Regions from separate parts of the Homo sapiens genome. Here region 1 is reported to be linked to region 2. Evidence: microRNA targets listed by miRTarBase, many of them from high-throughput screens and not tested one by one. Region 2 holds a microRNA gene; the other region holds the end of a gene's coding sequence.

Evidence for each region. Region 2 holds the annotated microRNA hsa-miR-4713-5p (UUCUCCCACUACCAGGCUCCCA, at 2,864-2,885, opposite strand). A microRNA usually pairs through its seed, bases 2 to 8, with sites in the 3' UTR of a target mRNA and lowers its output. Matches are read on the target gene's strand: a 7mer-m8 pairs with bases 2 to 8, a 7mer-A1 pairs with bases 2 to 7 and ends in A, and an 8mer does both.
Region 1: the mRNA of MED8 is a reported target of hsa-miR-4713-5p. Seed matches in the 3' UTR shown: 7mer-A1 at 1,238-1,244.

Annotation. Positions count from the first base shown.
Region 1 is chr1:43,381,478-43,385,477 of GRCh38, reverse strand. It overlaps MED8 (mediator complex subunit 8), which reads left to right. Exons shown (of 7, transcript NM_201542.5): 7 at 372-1,561. The coding sequence ends at 436. MED8-AS1 (MED8 antisense RNA 1) reads right to left here and starts at 429. Exons shown (of 2, transcript XR_001738027.1): 1 at 337-429; 2 at 1-194.
Region 2 is chr15:51,240,595-51,245,084 of GRCh38, reverse strand. MIR4713 (microRNA 4713) reads right to left here and starts at 2,895; the gene lies at 2,821-2,895. It overlaps CYP19A1 (cytochrome P450 family 19 subfamily A member 1), which reads left to right. Exons shown (of 10, transcript NM_000103.4): 2 at 2,135-2,317. The coding sequence starts at 2,173. All of the region lies in intron 1 of MIR4713HG (MIR4713 host gene), which reads right to left. RefSeq lists cis regulatory regions at 1,121-1,127, 1,786-1,807, promoters at 1,035-1,191, 1,805-1,834, 1,778-2,039, 1,180-2,157, 1,960-2,217 and silencers at 1,868-1,895, 1,923-1,952, 1,798-1,959.

The sequences.
Region 1 (4,000 bases), not on the chromosome of region 2:
CTCCAAGCTGTCTAGGAAAAGGGACAATTAAAGAGAGATTCTGCACTTATTATGATATAAAAAAAGAAAAACAATGAGAGAACATAGTACTCTTTTACCTGTGACGTTAAATGGGAGTCACACAGGTTTAGCTATCTGTTCTAGGAGTGGATGAACAGACTATTCTCCCATGTCACTTCTTTCCTCCTGGACACCTTCAGGGAGACAGCTGGGTGAAGAATCATACTTCTGACCTCTGTCAAACAGGGTCAGATGCCGCAGAGGTTCTGAGATGATAAAGGAAGTGACAGAGGGAACCTGAGGTACCACATTTCTGATTTGTCATGAAAGTCTTACCTTGCTTAAGATGACTTTTTTAATGTTCCTTTCAGGGAAAATGCCAAGTGGAATAAAAACCAACATCAAGTCGGCTTCCATGCATCCCTACCAGCGGTGAGTGTGGCTGGCAACCTCGACTCCCTGGTGCTCTTTGCAGAGTTGGGCAGTGAAATTACCTTTTGCTCAAGGCTCACCTAGATGGGTACAATAAAAAGAACATGGGCTTTCAGCAGCAGACAAATCCCACTTCCACCACTGACTAGCTGTGTGACCTTGGACAAGTGACCTAATTTTTCTGAGCCTGTTTCTCATTTGTAAATGGTGATAATACCTACCTCATAGGGTTGTTGTGAGGATTAAAATGAGGAAATGAATGTAAAGCACTTAGTACAGTATATGAAATAATGGGTATTCAATAAATGATAGTTTCTACAGATCCTTCTCCCCACCACCCTCCACAGTCCTTGATCCAGAACTTACCCTAATCTGATACTGCCTCACGTCAATGGTGAGCTGATGGACACAAGATCAAATAAGGCTATGCTTATTTTGTGCTGCCAGAAACTGTAGCAACCTCTGTGTTCTTAGAGGCACACTGTTTTTGCAGGCCCTCCTGCCTGGGTTTCATTCTGGCTATCCCTCTAAGGCGCAAGGTGAAGAAGCTTCTGGGCCAGGAAGGAAAAAAAAATGCCCACCTGCAGCTCTGGTGAAGCTTGGGCCTGCTCTCCTTTCCATCCTCTAAGGAGCCAACTTGGCTTTTACCTGTCAAATAGTCATAAAGTCCCCTATCCTTTACCCCACCTTATACACACGAGGCTTTCTCAGGAAGTGGCTCTGCCAGGCAGGACTATGTGGGAAAGGGTTTTTCCTTAGCACACGAAAAAGCCCCTTCCCCTGGATTCATGTTTCTTATTTTGGAGGGAGAAGGGAATTGCACTTCACACTGCCATCAGGGTTTAGTTGACCTCATAATGGTGCCCACTTTCTCGACTTTGGCCAGGATTTCCTTCAAAGAAAACGACTTTCCTTCATTTCCCTAAGCCTGTGGCCCAAATGGTGGACCAGAATGATGGTGGGAGGGGGCAACCCCCAGTAGCTTTGCCTGCTTTTATAAAGTTGAACAAATTGAATTTAGACATTCAGGCTAACCTGCCTTTCTTAGTACTCCTTTGTTGGCATGGGCAGGGGTTGAGTCAGCAGAAGTGGACCAAAGGATTCCTCTGAATAAAGTTATTTAAATTGATGTTCACTGGCTCAGGGTTGTCTGACAGTAATTTATGAGAGCACTACATAGGGATCAGAGGGGCAGTTTCAAGAGTGCTGCAAGGCAGTTCTAATTTGTTCTCCATAAAAAAGTTTCCGTATCTTTAATTAGCTTTGATCTAAAAATCCTGAAACTTCCCTCCTGCTCATACCTTCCAGCTGCCTTTTTTCTGTTCTGTCACACACTGGTACTTTGGCATTTGTTCAGTGCCAAACAAAGTTCTGCCAGGCTGTGGCAGCAAAGGACTGGAAAAGTGGTCCCAGATGTCACATCTGTTACCATTCCATCAAGGTGAGGAATGGTATCCACAAAGCTCACTGACCACAATACATAGCAGTAGGGGAGTCTGGTCACCAGCTCTAAGGCAATGCCAGACCTTTCCCCCACTTAAACTGTTCCGGCTCATCAGCCCACTCAGGTGTTATCTTCTCACCTCTTCCCTTCCCACTGGAAATGTCAGTATTAACTGGCATATTGGGTAGAGTTTGAGCTGTGCTTCTCTGAAATTCCTGGAGCATCTTTTGGTGACTATTGTCCTTTACTCCACCAAAAGATTCCCTCCTATTGAATGGCACCAACCCCAAGTTTTTTTGTGTCCCAGGCAAATACTGACTTCATCCCCACCATACTATTAAAATGGATTCCTTGTCATCCAAGAATGGAAATATCCTCTTGCCCCAACAGGAACATATGCAGGATGTCACCTACATCTTGTTCCCCTAAGCAAACACTCCTTCCTCTAGAGGGACTCCTCTACATTCATCACCGTAGGAGCACATGCTGTCGTTTTTATCCCCCATCCTCAAATCATCTGGAGTACACAAATCTCAGTAGTGTCTCCCACTTTGGGGTCCATACAGCCTATTAAATGCCTCAATAGAGAGTATGTATCTCCCACCCCTAACATACTCATTCCCTCAGGAGGGAATACATATACAGTTTTCCTTTGAAGAAGGGGACATGACCTATTTACTGGCTCAGATTTAGGATTTGCAAAAGGTGACTATTGGCCTACTCTGGTAACATTCCTCTGTTTTTGACTGTCCTGTTTTGCTTGGAGATCGTGCTTTCTCCTATTCTTGGGTCCCCTGGAGAAAGAGATTAGGCCATTGTCTCCTAGGTTTGTGTCTAGGATGGAGAAAGAAGCAGCAGCTGTGAAACGTCAAGAGCTTACTACAGGACAGAGTTCATCCTGCTGAAGGCGGAAGCTTATCCAATCAATGTCAGCATAAGGCCCATTGCCTAGGATCTCTCCCTCTCCAGCTCTGCCCTGAGCCTGGGATTCAGTCATTGCTGAACCTCTCTTTTGCTCATTGTGCCAGTCACCCCATTCTGTTCCCCTTCTGGTGTTTATTGCTGCCCTACTTAGCTGGTGTACCTCATTCAACCCTGTCGTTTTTTGGGAAACAGCCAAGATAGATAGGTTGTAGCCAAGTGCTCCTTAGAACTCCATAATGGGTCCCAGCATTAGGATTGAGCTGGAGGGGGTGTAATTGCCCACCTCCTGTTGTGCTGCCACAGAGAAGAAGCTGAACTCTGCAGGAATGCCCCAGTGCAAGGCTGGTCCCTTTTCCCACCCCCCTCTCACCTCCCCCAGGCAGCTGGAAACAACCTCTCCCTTTGTCTGAGCTTCTTGTACAGAATAATCCTCCTTATGGACAATGTATTCTCTGTGCCCTGTGGACACAGGAGCTGTGTAAGCTGATCCCAGCACCAGGCAGGACGGAGGCTGAGTCCTTCCAAACGCCCACCCTGGGTCAGCTCCTGATTACTGTCCAGATGAACTACGAAGGAGTGTACATTCTCTTCCATCTGCCTTTCCTATCTGCTCCAGAATTAGGGGAATAGCCTACTGAAGTTTAGCATTGGGCCAGGAGTAGGAACAGGGGATGTGGTCCTTTTCTGTTCAGTCTTGAGGGTTCACAGTGCCTGCTTATGGAGGCTCGATGTGGCTCTTGCCTGGAAACCTCAAACACATGGGGACTAACCCTTGGAAAGGGCTTGCCACTGTGCAGATGGGGCTTTATGATTGGAACAGAAGGCAAACTCCAACGCATCTGATGGGACCATGGTGCCCCATCACTTCAGCATGTGTTTTGTCCCACAAGACAAAGTTCCTTTCTTCTTCCCTTTAACTTCTCTTTTTTTTTGAGCTCCATGTGTCACTGAGGCAGCTCTTGGGTTCCTGTTGTGGTCTCTCAATGAGTCACATGCCATTTGGACATGGCAGCTTCCCTAAGTACATCGTGGACAAGGCATCTCACTTCCCTAAGCCTCAGTTTTCTCACTTGGTGATCCCAGTGATCCTTTTTAGGTCTAAAGTCTGTGGCAATGATTTTCAAACCCATTTATCCCCAGGCATTTTGTTTTGTTTTGTTTTCCTTGGTGCATGACTGTTACATAAATAGGCCAAAATTT
Region 2 (4,490 bases):
GTCAAAGCATTAGAAACTCTTACCATAGGTTATAAGTGTGTAGGGGAACAAACAAACAAAAATAGTAAAATATTTTAGGACACAGTAATTTGAAACATTAGAAACAATGCAACATTTTAAGTGTTTTCTTTCTTTGTGAAAATAAACTTACTAACAGGTTTTTTAAAAGTGCTTGCCTTCTTCTCTTTGCATAACTTACGATACTGAGGGAACATCTTTTCTATGCCAGTGAATTGCCATAGTCCTTTATAAATTTGCATCAGCTTGCAACATCTTATCTCTTTGCTTTCAGTGTTGTGAAATACCTCTGGAAGTTCCTATAATGTGAAGTTTTTTGCTGGGATCACTTCCTGTGGGACATCTTCATCCTTTTTGTTGCAACCACTTTCCTCATTTATGCTTTGAACAATGGTTTCAGGTTTCATCAATATAAATCGAAACTTCAAGGGTCCCAACTGTCAGAAAGTCACATAGAACTTACTCAGAATGATGTCAAATTCCACTCTAGAAATTTAAAACCTCACCCTGTTAAAAATAGCTTGTCATCAACAAAGGAACCAGATGATAACAGACACAAGGCTGACTTTTTAGTTTCGACTTATATATATTAAAAAAAAAACAACCACAAAACTGCTCAACATAAGCACAATGTGCTTTCAGGAGAGAATCTCAAAGGACCTTTCCAGTGCATTTTCAGTGCCCTGCACCCAAGCATTAATGATTATTTAAATGGTAGAATAACATAAAATGATGAAACAACTGGATAAATTCAACTATGTTGTAAAAATTTTGTAGTTGACAGAAATCAGTCTTTGGACTTTAAGATCTCATATAGATCAGAGGAGAAATATAATGACATACTCCTTAAGAATCTGATGAAAGTTATGGCCTTTCTCCACTAGAATGTGCCGATTACAATATTTTATGCAGTGTTTCAAGGAATACACAGAGCCCCCAATATCCAGTTAGAAGCCCTGGCTGTGAATCTAGAATTTTATTACAGGTGAAACCCAGCACAAGTCTGATTGAGAGCCATTGCAAGTCACAGAAACTCTAGGCCCTGTCTAAGTAAAGGCAAACCTTGGAGTATGTCATCTGCCACTGAAAATGCATTTAATGATGACTCACTCTTTCCTCACTATACAAGTTTGTTCAACCTACACCTCTTCAGCTACAGACTACCTACCATCCCTGAAACTCTGTTCTGAGAGTAAAGGGATTACAAAACCTGGCTGAAAAGACAGATTCAATGGCATGTTGAAAAACACAGCAGAACCAGCACATCAGACTGTAAATTGATTGTCTTGCACAGGATGTTAGCTGCTCTTCGAATGAGGTTCCTGAGTGGCACCTGAGCCTATTGCTGGTGGCATCCTATTCTGCCTGTTCTCTCTTTCTTCCTCCTTCCCCATTCCTTTCATTCTCTTCTCCCTTATTCTTCCTCTGCAATTCTTTTTTTCCACACTACCGTTGGCCGGTCCCTAGGGATACTGTTTAATCTGGCCCATGGTACAAGAGATTTTAGATCTTCATTGAAGTCACTAGAGATGGCCTGAGTGAGTCACTTTGAATTCAATAGACAAACTGATGGAAGGCTCTGAGAAGACCTCAACGATGCCCAAGAAATGTGTTCTTACTGTAGAAACTTACTATTTTGATCAAAAAAGTCATTTTGGTCAAAAAGGGGAGTTGGGAGATTGCCTTTTTGTTTTGAAATTGATTTGGCTTCAAGGGAAGAAGATTGCCTAAACAAAACCTGCTGATGAAGTCACAAAATGACTCCACCTCTGGAATGAGCTTTATTTTCTTATAATTTGGCAAGAAATTTGGCTTTCAATTGGGAATGCACGTCACTCTACCCACTCAAGGGCAAGATGATAAGGTTCTATCAGACCAAGCGTCTAAAGGAACCTGAGACTCTACCAAGGTCAGAAATGCTGCAATTCAAGCCAAAAGATCTTTCTTGGGCTTCCTTGTTTTGACTTGTAACCATAAATTAGTCTTGCCTAAATGTCTGATCACATTATAAAACAGTAAGTGAATCTGTACTGTACAGCACCCTCTGAAGCAACAGGAGCTATAGATGAACCTTTTAGGGGATTCTGTAATTTTTCTGTCCCTTTGATTTCCACAGGACTCTAAATTGCCCCCTCTGAGGTCAAGGAACACAAGATGGTTTTGGAAATGCTGAACCCGATACATTATAACATCACCAGCATCGTGCCTGAAGCCATGCCTGCTGCCACCATGCCAGTCCTGCTCCTCACTGGCCTTTTTCTCTTGGTGTGGAATTATGAGGGCACATCCTCAATACCAGGTAAGTCAGTCATTTATTTCTGTATCTAAGGAGATTATTTACTTGGGATTTTGGTCCATGATGGTAAAGAAAATTTTGCAAAAGGACAAAAAGCAAACCTGGAAAGATCTCTGAAGACTATGTCTGTGTTAGCAAATGAGGACTTGGGAGAAAATTTTCAGACCAATTATCTGCACATTTTAAATGAAAGCACTTAAAAAATATCTTAGATAAACCCTTCCACTCTGTGCTGTGCTTTCGTAAAGTAGACTTGGCACAAGTACCCTTTAAAACAAGCTCAAGATGGGGTGGAGTAAAGTAAAATTCCAGGGTTTTCTGGTTAACTTTTAAAAAATAGATTGCAATTTTGCTCTGAAGGTGAAAATGTCTCTGGAACATCTTCTTCACTGCTTTTCTTCTCCCTTTCACTTTGTTTCCGCCATGCCCCCTCTTTGTCTTGTATTTATCCCTTCTCTTTATTCCACTCATCATTTTCTCTTATTCTTGGGAATGTGGTGATAGTGGTCCCCATTTTTCTCCCACTGTCTGGATCCCATTCGACCCTTATGGGAGCCTGGTAGTGGGAGAAAAATGGGGACCACTCCAGTGCTCTTGGAACATCATACCCCGGGAGAATCTTCAACAAGATCTGTGGTTCAATCAAAAGCAGAGAATAATATAATTATTCAGATAATCCCAATAGAAAACCCCACCCTTCCACCCTTAAAGCCGCAATGATCAGATATCAGATTAATTCAGAATGACTTGAAATTTCAGACTGCTTCTTTAGGTTTCAGTGAAAATGCTTCATTGCAGACACATCTGTTCCCAATTCCATAAGATATCCAATGAGACTTTAAGAGCATAGTTACACACTGGTAAGTGTGGTGGGCCTAGTCTCAGTGGGATCAGAAGTGGGAGCATGGGGCTAGCACAAAATGCTCTGTGTCTGGATTCTTTTTAACATTCCAGATAATTGCCTGTCTCTCTGCCTGATTCAGCCTGATATTTTAGATTACTTTAATGCCCAGTTTAAAGGAACATTTAGTTAATTTTGTTCTCTGCTCCCTGACAGGGTCAACTCTAGAGAAGGGAGGCTCAGAGCTAAGGGACAACTGTTTCATGGTCTTTAACTTGAACTCTGTTCCCCAGTGTGGCCCTTCCTCACTGGATTTCTCCTCTCCCAAGGGGGCTTCTAGGTCAGGGTCAGTGAATGGTCGGGGTGGGGTGAGTAAGTGGTGGGGGTGGAGAGCCTTTTTTTCCTCTTCTTCCCTTCATAGGCTCAGGTGCTAAATTCCAATTTGTCTGTGTTAGCAGACAATCAGGCCAGGAGAGTCCAGCATTGCCCACGCAGCATTGCCCATCCAGTGAGCCACAGGTTCTCAAGCTTTTAAGTCTATGTAAGAACACCCAGCAGGTAGGAGCTTGTTAACATTTCTGTTCCTGGACCCTGCTCCTGACTTTTTGACTCAGACTCTTCAGGCCTAGAAACATGCATTTTTAAAAAGTCCCCGCAGATGCTTATGTTAATCAGCACTGGTGGAATTTCCTTGGACCCTTGACCAAGGAGGTCAGCCTGTTAGGACAAGCCTGAGAACCAGCAGCCCTGAAGCTCTGGATCAGTGGGAGAGTAGGCAGCACCTCACTCTGTCCACCATTTCTGGGCCAGGGCCATCATGCTGATCCACTGACAGTCAGATCAAGTAGCACAGTGATTCTCAGCACTGTCTGAGGTAGGAGCTCAGCTAGTTTGGGGTTGCTATTTTTAAAAAAATCTCCCTTCCTGATTTTTTATGAGCAGCCAAGGTTGAGAGCCACAAATATGAGCCTAACTCCTTCATTTGACAGAAGGGGAAACTGAGACCCAGGGAGTTGATCTGCCTTGCCCAGACAAAACACTATGACAAGCATGAGAAGCCATGGAGTTCAAACTTGTCGTTTTACAAGTGAATGGTTAAAGCCCAGTGAAGGGAAATGGCTTGTCATCTCCCCAGCTGGACAGAAAGTGGGAATGTAGGGGGACCACCAGGAAGTCCTAAAGCCCAGGTTGATGATCATTTTGCTAGACAGGTAGTTTCTAGTTTCACACTTTCCTTTTGAAAACAGAAGGTCTAGTTAGAATCCACTAGTAGCACAGACTGTGAGATCCTATGGTTTCTGGTTGGGGGAGGGAAGATAAGAAAATTGGCCTTGT